Linked DNA regions of Homo sapiens: regions 2 and 3 are each linked to region 1. Evidence: fine-mapped expression QTL. A gene starts in region 1. Each other region holds a variant in brackets. All regions are shown on one strand. Distances are between the middles of the regions. Region 1 holds the start of GMPR (guanosine monophosphate reductase). Region 2 overlaps GMPR (guanosine monophosphate reductase). Region 3 has its middle 45 kb from the start of GMPR.

Region 1 (4,346 bases):
TAGAAGAATCAGGGACTCAGGCTGACTCTAACAGGAGTATGATTTTGTGTCAGAGAAGAGGGCAGTTATAGAGGAATGTTCCAGAGGGAGAGGGAATGGAATGTGTAAAATGAACTTCTCTGTCTATTCTAATAAAAGGAGGGCTAGCCAGAAAGAAAGAGAACCAGAGGGAAAGAGCAAGGACAACCTACAGAAGCTTCTCCTTTAAGACCATGTATGAAACAATGAATAAAGCCCTCATCCACGCTGGCAGATGCTTAACAAGGTCAGTTTCTCTTCCCTTTAAGGATAATAATTTAAAAATAATCATACCATCTAGTAATTATATTTTACCTCTATTTAATCTTTAAAAGATCAGAATTAGGTTTCCTTTCCGTACTTCACAAATAAGCAGCACATCTGGCCAGCTCCCAAGAATTCGTCAAGGGTTATAAACATTGCATGGGCTGGACTAATTGTGGCTACTTTCATTCTCTCTGATAAGTTTCATTTCCTTCCCTGAAACTTCATGAACTTCCTTTGGGGTATAGCTAATGAAACCATGTGGGATGGGCTGAGACCTTTATCATCTTCAGACATTTGTGTTAAATTGAATATTGTGATGTATCTTTTATGGTCAGCCTTATCACATGCTAGCTCAAGGAGAACAGTTGCTAGCTCAGTTCGAGGCTGCAGAAAAATGGAAGAGAATGAAAGATGATTCTTGCCTTTGTGCAGTTAGCATTCTAGTTTGAAAATACAAACACAATGCACATAATGTAACATGTGACTACAAATCTGTAACTACCATGCATTGAGCAACTACTATGGGACAGACATTGTGCTTACATAAACACACACACTTTAATTCTCACAAAAACCAGGGAGGAGATAGGGTTAACCCCCCCTCCTGCCCCCACCCCTTTTATGAGAAAACTGAGACTTAGAGAAATTGACTCCCCTAAGGTCACCTAGCTAGACAGTGGTGGAACCAGGTTTCAAACTCAGGCAGAGATGTTCCAGGACAAAAGCAGCTTCAGTGAATAGTTGTAGCAAGTTTTAAGGACTGAGAAATTTATATTGAATTTTTCTGCGGCCTTAGGCAAGTTATTTCATTTATAGAAGCCTCGTTTTTCCTTATCTGTGAAATGGCTCTTTCTTCATTGGGTTGTTCTGAGAGTGAATGAGATGATGCATGAAGCCCGGCAGCACATTTCAAATGTATAATAAAAGGTCGGTAAGGTCAATAAGTGAATCAATGAACTCACATCACTGGTAACCCCTCGAACTCACATCACTGGTAACCCTCAGAGGGGACTCAGGCTCCTCAAATCTCAGGATCTGCGTCGACTACAGACCTCACTGTTTTTCTTAAACAAAAATCCTGAAATCCAGGCTGGGCGCAGTGGCTCACGCCAGTAGTCCCAACACTGGGAAGCTGAGGCGGGAGGATTGCTTGAACCCAGTAGTTCAAGACCAGCCTGGGCAACACAGTGAGACCTTGTCTCTTAACAACAAGTCCAAAGGGAATCATGGCCTCCACAATCCCAGTACAGCTAAACAGTTAACTGCCCACGTTCTTTTCCTTAATTCTATACAACCTCCCTGGGGTTTCTGGTTCTTTGGCAAGTGAGAGACGTGCTCCTCAACACTGGGTGAGCACACCGGGCTTGAATTTTAAAAAAGGAGAATCCGCCGGGCACGGTGGCTCACGCCTGTAATCCCAGCACTTTGGGAGGCCGAGGCAGGCGGATCACTTGAGGTCAGGGGCTCGAGACCAGCTTGGGCAATATGGTGAAACCCCGCCTCTAGGAAATAATTTTTAAAATAAGCTGGGTGTGGCGGCGTGCGCCTGTACTCGAGGAGGCTGAGGCATGAGAATCGTTTGAGCCCAGGAAGTCGAGGCTGCGATGAGCGGCGATAGCGCCACTCACTCCAGCCTGAGCGACAGTGAGACTGTCTCAAAAAAAAAAAAAAAAAAGTAAAAGCTCTCAGGGAGCGACTTTTCCCTTGGATAAGGCAGCCACACGCTAAGTCCCCTCTCCATCGGGGACCCTGGGGACAAACAGAACGGTGCGCATTTCCCTCCCCCGTCCCCATTCGGTCACTGCCACGGGCTGTACACCTGAGGGGGAAGGACGGGGGCGGCGGCGCGAGGAGGAAGGGCTTCGCCGCCAATCTGTCCCTAACCAGTCTGCCTCTCAACCCCTGCCTGAGGCGGAGGCGGTGCCCGGGGCGGGCCAAGCGTGACCGCGGGTCGGCGGGGCGTGTTTAAGACCGCGGCGTGCGCACCCGGCCCACGCCAGCTCCCGGCCGCGGCACAGCAGCCCCGGCGCTCCCCGCGCCGCCCCGCGCAGGCGCCCCCGCCCCGCCGTCGCCGCCGCCGCAGCCAGGAGCCGCTGCACCATGCCCCGCATAGATGCGGACCTCAAGCTCGACTTCAAGGATGTCCTGCTCCGACCTAAGCGGAGCAGCCTCAAGAGCCGAGCCGAGGTGGGGGACGTTCGGAAGTCGCAGTGGGGTGGGATTTTTTTTTCCGGGTGGCGCGGGGCAAGTGGGTGGAAGGGGGTGGCACCGGGTTACCCTGCCTGCTTTGGTGTTTGAGACTGGGGCGCTGCGCCCCCGTTCCCGCGCCCCAGCACCTGCCAGGACGTGAGGTGTCTTTAAGGGCGGTGATACGGGGGCCCATGAAATTCTCTACACGTCGGTCCCGTTGGGTGGCCTAGGGGAAGTTCACAGTGAAACTCGACCACAGATGAGCGAGATCCAGTGGCCAGTTGGTTTAGAAGGAATAGGGGTACGAGGGCGCTTATAGCAAGAAAAGGAAACTGGAGCTAGGGGAGAGAGGACGAGAAAAACAACTGCAGATCCCGGTGATTTTTGGCTGCGTCTCCTAGTGCTGATAATTGCTGCTGCTTTCGCTTCGGGTCCAGCGGTGGAACTTCGTGAACGCGTCTGAAAAACCAGAACCCAGGGCACAAGTTCAGGGTTTCCTTTCTGAGTTTGGCGGCCTTGCTGGCAGTGGGGCTTGGGGACTCAGCGGTACTGGACAGCCCGCGGTCCCAGCCTAGCCCTGGAGAAGAGTTTCGAAAGCTTTGGGGTGAGAGAGGTGGGGGCGAATTGGAAGCCTCGGGCATTTCCCTGGTTCTGCCTGGATGTCCTCAAATCCTAAGGAACAGGTGGAGACCGGACTGGAAATAGCCTGAGGCTGGGGGAAGGGAGGCCAGTCCCTGAAGGATAAACTAGTTGCCTGAAAGGCAGAGTGCCCCGGGGTGGTGTGCGCTGGTGACTGGCTTTGCTGAGAGCTGGAGAGGAAGGTGAGGAAACCGGACACGGTTGAAGGCTGGGGCTGAAGGAGTAAACACGAGGAGGCTGGGCCAACCTGCACAGCTCCGTCCACTCAGCTCCACAAACAAGACCATAAATAAATCCCCTCAGCAAAGAAGTCCGCTGCCCACTCCGGTGCCAGGCCTAACTGCAGTGCCTGGGGCTGCCAGCCGAGGGCTTGCTTGGATTGGGGAAGCCTCCGCGTTAGCCAATGACTAAACCAAGTGGCCTTCTGTAAGCAGCAGCATTGGCTGGTTTGGAGCCCGGCAGGACTGGAGGACGTAGGGGAGGAATGATTAAAACTTATCGCCCCAGATTGGGTGACCCTGTGCCTGTCCCTCATGACCTTTCAGGTGCTAAAGAGGGGGCCTCTCTTGGAACAAAAACAGTTTGGAGGGCAGGCCTGGGCCTCTGGAAGCATGAGCTGTAGCCAATTCCTAAGGCAAGACCAAGATGAAATAGGGGGATTCTGGATGTGCTAATAATTTGGTGGCCTCAATATTCTTTAAATATTCAAAATGTATTTAGAAGAGAGAAACTCATTTTTCAGAAAATTGGATGTTCAAAACAAAGATATACCTATTTTCTGAACCAGAAAACATGTTGAGAAGGTAAAATATTGAACATTAATGTAATAGGGCCAGGCACAGTAGCTCACACCTGTAATCCCAGCACTTTAGGAACCTGAGGTGGAAGGATTGCTTGAGGCCAGGAGTTCGAGGCCAGCCTAGGCAACAAAGCAAGACCTCAGCTCTACAAAAATTTAAAAAATCAGCCAGGGCAGTTGTGCACACCTCTAGTCCCAGCTATTTGGAAGGCTGAGGCGGGAGGATGGCTTGAGCCCACGAGCTGGAGATTACAACAAAAATTTAAAAAATTAGGGCAGTGGTGCTCACCTGTAGTCCCAGCTACTTGGAAGGCTGAGGCGGGAGGATGGCTTGAGCCCAGGAGCTGGAGGTTACAGTGAGCTATGATGGTGCCACTGCACTTCAGCCTGGACAACCCTGTCTCTAAAGCTAAAATGAAATTTATGTAATAGA
Region 2 (4,000 bases), 52 kb after region 1:
CCATGCAAGGGCTGAGGAGTGCAGGCGCAGGGCGTGGGACTGGTGGGCAGCTCCATCTGCAGCCCCAGTGCGGATCCACTGGATGAAGCCAGCTGGGCTCCTCAGTCTGGTGGGGACGTGGAGAACCTTTATGTCTAACTCAGGGATTGTAAATACACCAATGGGCACTCTGTATCTAGCTCAAGGTTTGTAAACACACCAACCAGCATCCTGTGTCTAGCTCAGGTTTTGTGAATGCACCAATCCACACTCTGTATCTAGCTAATCTGGTGGGGACGTGGAGAACCTTTGTGTCTAGCTCAGGGATTGTAAACACACCAATCAGCGCCCTGACAAAACAGACCACTCACTCTACCAATCAGCAGGATATGGGTGGGGCCAGATAAGAGAATAAAAGCAGGCTGCCGGAGCCAGCAGTGGCAAACCCTTCTGGCTCCTTTTCTTTGGGAGGGTGATTTGTTGTTTCGCTCTTTGCAATAGATTCTGTTGCTGCTCGGTCTTTAGGCCCACACTGCTTTTATGAGCTGTGCTATTTGCCGGGAAGGTCTATAGCTTCATTTTTGAGCTAGCGCAGACCCCAACCCCACCAGAAGGAAAAAGCCTCAGCCGCGCCACCTTATAGAGCTGTTACACTCACAGTGAGAGTCTATGGCTTCATTCTTGAAGTCAGTGAGACCAAGAACCCACCAGTTCCGAACACAGTAGCAGTTCCTTAGTTAATAGGCAATGAAGAATCCCACTGCACAGTGATCCATGAACAAAATGGGGAATGATAACTTTTTTTCCCACGTTTTTACTTTTTTGACAGCTAATCATTCAGCGTCTATCATGTGCTGTGCACTTTGGATCAACATAGAACCAGCCCTGGGCCTGTTCCAGCATAGCCCACAAAGACAGGCAGCTTCAGTACCTCTGTCTCCTGTGCCTGTCCTGGAAATGTGCTGTCATTCGGTGATTAGTCTGGCAGAATATGTACTCTGGAAATCTAATGTGCAGCAGCATGGTGCGGGTGGAGTTTTAGACGACTTCCATAACACGGGGACTTCTTTCCTTGAAGCTGTCTAGTGTAGGAGCTTCAGTCTGTTCTGAGGCTTTTTCCTGATGTATAAGCACAGGGAGTGTCAGAGTGTGGAGAGCTTCAAGTACAGACCAGACACCTGAGGGGGTATCATAGAGGAGTCATAGCATTAAGTACAAGATTAGGTAACTTGCTTTCTAAGATACTGCCCAATTTTTTTTTTTTTTTTTTTTTTTTTTTTTTTTTTTTTGTGAGACGGAGTCTCCCTCTGTTGCCCAGGTTGGAGTGCAGTGGCATGATCTCGGCTCACTGCAACCTCCACCTCCGGGGTTCAAGCGATTTCCGGCTAATTTTTGTATTTTTAGTAGAAATGGGGTTTTATCATGTTGGCCAGGCTGGTCTTGAACTCCTGATCTCAAGTGATTCACCTGCCTCAGCCTCCCAAAGTGCTAGGATTACAGGGCTGAGCCACTGTGCCTGGCAGAATACTCCCCAATCTTAATGTTTCTGTGATTCTAAGAGAGTTAGATCTGAGGAAGGTGGTCGTAGTTAGCCATTAAAAGCCATTCAGCATGGTCCAGTATATGGGACACTAGCCTTCAGTAGGCTGCATTTGTTTCTCGCAGTGTCCCATGGCCCTTTCTCCCTGCATGGAAGCCTTCTCCCTTTTTCCAGGAGGAGACAGGCGAGAGAGGTCCAGCCTTTCTCTTGACTATAGCTGGGCGGGGAGGGAGGTGAACTGGGCAAGCACTGGGATTTTTTGAGAGCCTTTTCCCCTGAGCTGTTTTCTCTGCTACTCGCTTTCATCCCCACCGTTGGCATTTAGGAGCTGGAGCAGATTTTGTCATGCTGGGAGGAATGTTTTCGGGTCATACGGAGTGTGCTGGAGAAGTGTTTGAGAGGAACGGACGGAAGCTCAAGCTCTTCTACGGGATGAGCTCTGACACCGCCATGAACAAGCACGCAGGAGGAGTTGCTGAG[T/TAC]ACAGGTGAGGAGGTGACCCCGGGGCGCACCCTCGAGGCCTGGCCTTGCTTTTCTTACGGAGATGGGATGGAAGCAGGTCTGAATAGCAGCTCTGTGTATATTAAAGTACCGTGGGAAGGGGTTCTTTTTAAAGACCCCTAATTTGTATCCAGTTAGCATTTGCAGTGTTTGGGGTTCCCAAAAGCAAGTACAGAGCAGCAGTGTTTGGTGATGGGTTGGAAGTGTGACCAGGGTTATATGTGAGTGGGTGCCAGTCCTGAAGGGAATACTTCAGACCTCTGGGGGTAGGTGGAATTATTGTCTTGTCCTTCCAGTAGAGCCTGTGCTGAGCTATCCCTGTAAGCTTAGATCTCTGGCTTGAGAAGAGTTCAGGCTGAAAGGATTGAGTTGAAGAATGGCTCTCCTCTTGCACAGAAAGCCATAGGTGTGGTCTAGACCACTGCACGGTGGCCAGGCCTTTCCTGAAGAATGCTGCATACAGCTCATACCGCTTCTCACCTTCCTCCAGGCTCCGAGAGCCGACACAGCAGCATTTTCAGCCATTCAGTTGTGTCATCCACTGTAGAAGTGGGGCTTACTTCTGCTGATGTGTGTTTATTTTTTATTTTTTATTTTTATTTTTTTGTGGTGGAGTCGTGCTCTGTCGCCCAGGCTGGAGTGCAGTGGTGTGATGTCAGCTCACTGTAACCTCTGCCTCCCGGGTTCAAGTGATTATCCTGCCTCAGCCTCCCGAATAACTGGGATTACAGGTACCCCCCATCATGTCCAGCTATTTTTTGTATTTTTAGTAAAGATGGGGTTTCGTCATGTTGGCCAGGCTGGTCTCGAACTCCTGACTTCCAGTGATCCACCCACCTCGACCTCCCAAAGTGCTGGGATTATAGGCATGAGCCACCGCACCTGGCTCCTGATGCATGTTTTTAATCCATGGTCTCCAAAGACACCTGGGTCTTTTCCTGATTCCCTTCCATTTTAACTGTCTGCATGTGTGTTTTAAGAACCTGATGATGGGGCCAGGCACAGTGGCTCATGCTTGTAATCCCAGTGCTTCCAGCAGCCAAGGTTGGAGGACTGCTTGAGACCGGGAGTTCCAGATGAGCCTAGGCAACATAGCAAGACCCTGTCTCTACAAAAAAATTAAAAATTAGCTGGGTGTGGTGTCACATGACTGTACTCCCAGCAGCTCAGGAGGCTGAGGCAGGAAGATGGCTTAAGCCCAGGAGTTGGAGGCTGCAGTGAGCTATGATCGTGCCACTGTGCTCCAGCCTGGGCAACAGAGTGATACCCTGCCAAAAAAAAAAAAAAAGAACCTGATGACAGTATACTCGCTGCCTCACCCTGCTCCATAGAGCCTACTGTTACTCTCATCAGGGTTAGCGCCGATGACAAGCTATACAAAATGGGTACAGGAGCAAAGGTTCTCCATCTGCAGAGGGAAGTTGCCTGTGAATCGGCTGGTTGCCTTTTTCCAGGAAAGTTCAGGCTTCTCCCTCCAATTTTCAGACTCTATCCGGTGCTGGAGTGGAAACCTAAGCCCTCCCTGACTGACACCCTTTATTTCCTACCACTCATTCCACACCCAGAGGGTCATTTTGAGGACCTGGGATTCAGATGTATTATATAAGGTTCATACCAAGCTAGCAGCAAAATCTCAGAACTCCACTGAGATTTGTAGGTGGGGGGATTGGGGGGAGTGGGGTGTATTCTACCAGAGTTCTATTCATCCGTGGGGTTCTAGCGGACTTACTTCAGTTCTCATTCTCCTCAAGTCTCTTTCTCTTGGTGGTGAACCCCAATAAAGATATTATAGTATGGGAAAAGCAGGATGGGAAAGATCGATGGGGACTGCACCAATCAGAAATGAGGGATTCACTCCTTCCAGGTAGCCCCCGAGGCCCTCTTTCCCCCAAGCGGTCCCTGATAGAGGAGGAGGTTGCATGGTTGGGTAAGGAGGAGGCACTAAGCTGGACCTATGTTCAAGAAGCTTCGTGCTTTACCAG
Region 3 (4,349 bases), 45 kb before region 1:
AGGATACATGTGCACAACGTGCAGGTTTGTTACATATGTATACATGTGCCATGTTGGTGTGCTGCACCCATTAACTCGTCATTTAGCATTAGATATATCTCCCAATGCTATCCCTCCCCCCTCCCCCCACCCCACAACAGTCCCCGGTGTGTGATGTTCCCCTTCCTGTGTACAGTCCTTTTTTTGTCTGAACTTATCACATTTTGTGTTAAACAACACTAACCTAGCAGCTGATAAAATCTGATGCTTTAAAACTCAAAGGGATTCTAGAGGTTGTCTAGTCTGGTATTCCTCATGTGTTGGTCTGTACACAGGCTACATGAGAATTATTTGGTTAGTGATTTCCAAATACAGATTCCTGGGGCCCTCTCTGGGCCTTCTTTACAAAAGCTTAAAGGCAGGACACTGGGAATCTTAATTTTAAGGTTTCTAAATTGATTATTGGGCATAGCCTGGTTTTGCTACCTCTTATCCAAGACCATCTCTAACTCAGTGGAGGAATCCTGTCCTACACACCTCTGACCTGTAAGCAGGCAAGGCAGTCTCATCAGGGACACACACAGGAACAATCTTGGAGAAAGTGTGTTTTTTTGTTTTGTTTTGTTTTTTTGGAGACAGGGTCTCACTCTGTCACCCAGGCAGGGGTGCAGTGGTGCAATCTCAGCTCACTGCAACCTCCGCCTCCTGAGTTCAAGCAATTCTCCTGTCTCAGCCTCACAGGTAGCTAGGACCACAGGCGTGCACCACCATGCCTGGCTAATTTTTTGTATTTTTAATAGAGACGGGCGATCTCACTATGTTGCCCAGGCTGGTCTTGAACTGCTGAGCTCAGGCAATCCGCCCACCTCGGCTTCCCAAAGTGCTAGGATTATAGGGATAAGCTACCACACCCAGCTGGAGAAAGTGTGTTTTAATGGGGTAATAATATATTTCATTTTATTTATTTTTTGAAGAGAGAAGATCCCACTATGTTGCCCAGGCTGATCTTGAACACTTGGGCTCAAGTGATCCTCCCTCCCCAGCCTCCTGAGTAGCTGGGATTACGAGCATGAGCCAGTGCACTCAGCTGCTGGGATAACACTAGGTTTAAAAATCCTTTCTGGCTGGGCGCGGTGGTTCATGCCTGTAATCTCAGCACTTTGGGAGGCTGAGGCAGGCGAATCACGAGGTCAGGAGAGCGAGACCATCCTGGCTAACAAGGTGAAACCCCATCTCTACTAAAAATACAAAAAATTAGCCAGGTGCAGTGGCCCACATCTGTAATCCCAGCACTTTGGGAGGCCGAGGTGGGCGGATCACGAGGTCAGGAGATTGAGACTATCCTGGCTAACACGGTGAAACCCTGTCTCTACTAAAAATACAAAAAAATTAGCCGGGCATGGTGGTAGGTGCCTGTCGTCCCAGGTACTCGGGAGGCTGAGGCAGGAAAATGGTGTGAACCCGGGAGGCAGAGCTTGCAGTGAGCCGAGATCGCGCCACTGCACTCCAGCCTGGGTGACAGAACGAGACTCTGTCTCAAAAAAAACAAGCAAAAACAAACATTTTATTTAGAAATAATTTTAAATTTATAACAGACTGTCAAGGATTCTATAGAGAACTCCCCTATTCCCTTTACCCAAATTCACCATATCCATTTTTAACATTTTGACACACTTGAGCTCTTGTGTGTGCATGCACTCTCTCCTCACTCTCTCTGTCTGCACAGACACACACATTAAGTTTTTCTGGGTCATTTAAAAGTACTTTGCAGACTTCATGACCCTTTACTCCTCAGCGTATATTTTTTCAGTGTATATTTTCTAAGAACAAGAAAGTAATAAAATTCAGATAACTTAATATTGACATAATACCTTAATCTATAATCTTATGCCAAATTTACCAATTGTCCTAATAATATCCTTTAAAGCAGTTTTTGGTACATTATCCAGTCCAATAACACACTGATGTCCTAATAATTGTCCTAATAATATCCTTTAAAGCAGTTTTTGGTACATTATCCAGTCCAATAACACACTGATGTTCCTTAGAGGCTCTAGGGAACAAATGCATTATTTCGAAAACGTTTCATTGTCACAAATTACTTTATTTTTAATGTGGGCTTTGAATAGTTTATTCTAGAACCAACCACCCCATTCCTCTTAAAGAGATCAGCCTAGTCTTGAAAAGTCCAGGTTTGTGAAGACACATTTCCTTACCCATTCTCTGAAGTGTCAAGTTCCTATTTCAAACACATACACACAAAAAAAATTCAGAGGAAAATATTTGGAAATGTTCCTATTTGTTGTGTGCC[C/T]GTGGCCTAGGAGGTGACAAGAAACAAAATTGTTCCCTGCTTCTCTGTCAAAATCCTGGCATGTAGACCCTCTGTTTTCTCAATTCGTTATAGAATTTCAACTGCTGAATGAGCATTCTTTAACCTGAGCTGACCATTTGGAATTTAAAATTAGCAGAGTAATTATATTTACTGGGCCACTGATTCAAGGGAAATTGAGCTCAGCTGATGAATTTGCATGTCGTGAAATGGGTCATGACAGCAGATGGTCTTCCAAGAAGCAAAAAATAACTTTGAAGTTGGTTGCTCTTTCTCCTTGACTTCTTCCATTGAACCCCGCTGCAATAATGTGAATGCTGAAAGCAGGTCAAGTGAATTTGGGATGTCTGGATGGATAATCAAGGAGAGTTGTTAGTTGTCAAAGAAGAATATTTTGATCTTAAAATCAATCACCATATATCGAGATCTGATTATAAAGCTAATGCTGTGTTCAATCACCATCATCATTAACATTTATTAAGCGCTCGCTTGCACAGGTGCTATTCTAAATGCTTTACATGTATTGACTTGTTTAATCTGCACCAAAACCTATAAGCAAGGATTATTATCATCTGCATTTTACAAATGAGAAAATTGAAAGTAAGAAAATAAATTGACCAAGTTCAAATAAGGTGTTTTGGTTTTTGCTTTTTGTCATATGAAATAAGTGAAGCCTGAGGAGATTTTGTCTATATTAAACTCAGAAATGTCATATTTAGATTGTGGTTTCTAAATACCATTTCCCACTAAAAGAAACCAGGGCACTTTGGAGAAATGGCTGATTTGATATCTGGAGCTGGAAATGTACAAGATGAGCATAGAACATCTTGTCATACCACATGGCAGGAAAATGACTGGGATCGTTTTTTAAGGCTGAAGAGCTCTTATTGAGCAAAGAGGAACAAATTTGAGCATCAATAAAGAGAAGAATTAAAATGGATGTAAACAAATAGAAAATATTTGTTGAAACACATGGACTGTATTTAAATCCATTGGTTTATAATAACACTGAAACAGAAACACATTTGGTATTCTTTAGAGGCTCTAGGGAACCGATGCACTATTTTGAAAACTGATCAATAGGGAGAAAGAATCAAGCATTTTTTTCTTTCATTTTTTATATGAACTGTATCTCAGTGTAACCAAATATTTAACAAGGGCAAGTTTCTTTTTACATAAGTAATCTACCCAACAAATGAAGAAGAAATAATTAAAATATCACTATTTGAATCATTAAGGAATTAATGTTTCTCAGCAATGATCAACAATGGCTGGTAACATTTAGAAAGTGACATTTTATGATTCTTGATGGAAGTATTCCACACTACCTATATAATAGTCTTGCAAAAAAAAAAAAAATCTGTTCAAGCACCTGTATCTAACAGAAAATACAGAGGACAGAGGAGCATGTTAAGCAACACTGTGGGGATGAAATCAGAAAAATCCACACTATGAGAAACTCAGGACAAAGGGTCTATTTCTTCTATACAACAACAATCACAAGAATGAAAGACAAATGTAAGGAGGGAGAATATTTACATTAAAAGAGACTTGAGGATTGGGCATGATGACTCACACCTGTAATCCTAACACTTTGGGAGGCTGAGGTGGGAGGATCTCTTGAGCCCAGGAGTTGAAGACCAGCCTGGGGAACATAGCGTGACCCTATTTAAATATTTTAAAAAGAGAGAGAAACTTAAGAACTTATTATTAGCCAACAGTAATATATAGAGCTTTGTGGATCCTATTTCAAATGCACTTTAAAACAAAAAACAACAAAGCAAATTAGAACCAGAACATTTATAGATAATCAGGAAAATAGGAACATGGATATTAAAGAATTAGAATTACAATTTGGGGGATAAGATGATGATGTAATTACATTTAAAATAGAGTCTTCAGAGATACATACTAAAATATTTCAAATAAAATTATATGGTGTCTAAGGGTTGCTTCAAAATAATTGGGAGAAGCCAGGTACAGTGACCCAAGCTTGAAGTTTCAACTACTCAGGAGGCTGAAGCAGGGGAGACTGCTTGAG

What was found.
Region 2: its variant is fine-mapped to the expression of GMPR in whole blood (TOPMed, PIP above 0.99).
Region 3: its variant is fine-mapped to the expression of GMPR in aorta (GTEx, PIP above 0.99).

What each region holds. Positions count from the first base shown.
Region 1 is chr6:16,236,309-16,240,654 of GRCh38, forward strand. GMPR (guanosine monophosphate reductase) reads left to right here and starts at 2,279. Exons shown (of 9, transcript NM_006877.4): 1 at 2,279-2,472. The coding sequence starts at 2,386. RefSeq lists silencers at 2,062-2,161, 2,282-2,381.
Region 2 is chr6:16,288,618-16,292,617 of GRCh38, forward strand. It overlaps GMPR (guanosine monophosphate reductase), which reads left to right. Exons shown (of 9, transcript NM_006877.4): 8 at 1,845-2,004. Among named protein-coding and RNA genes, the nearest start is that of GMPR, 52 kb to the left of the region's middle. The variant T/TAC (reference allele first, on the strand shown) is at 2,000.
Region 3 is chr6:16,191,467-16,195,815 of GRCh38, forward strand. No RefSeq gene overlaps it. Among named protein-coding and RNA genes, the nearest start is that of GMPR, 45 kb to the right of the region's middle. The variant C/T (reference allele first, on the strand shown) is at 2,291.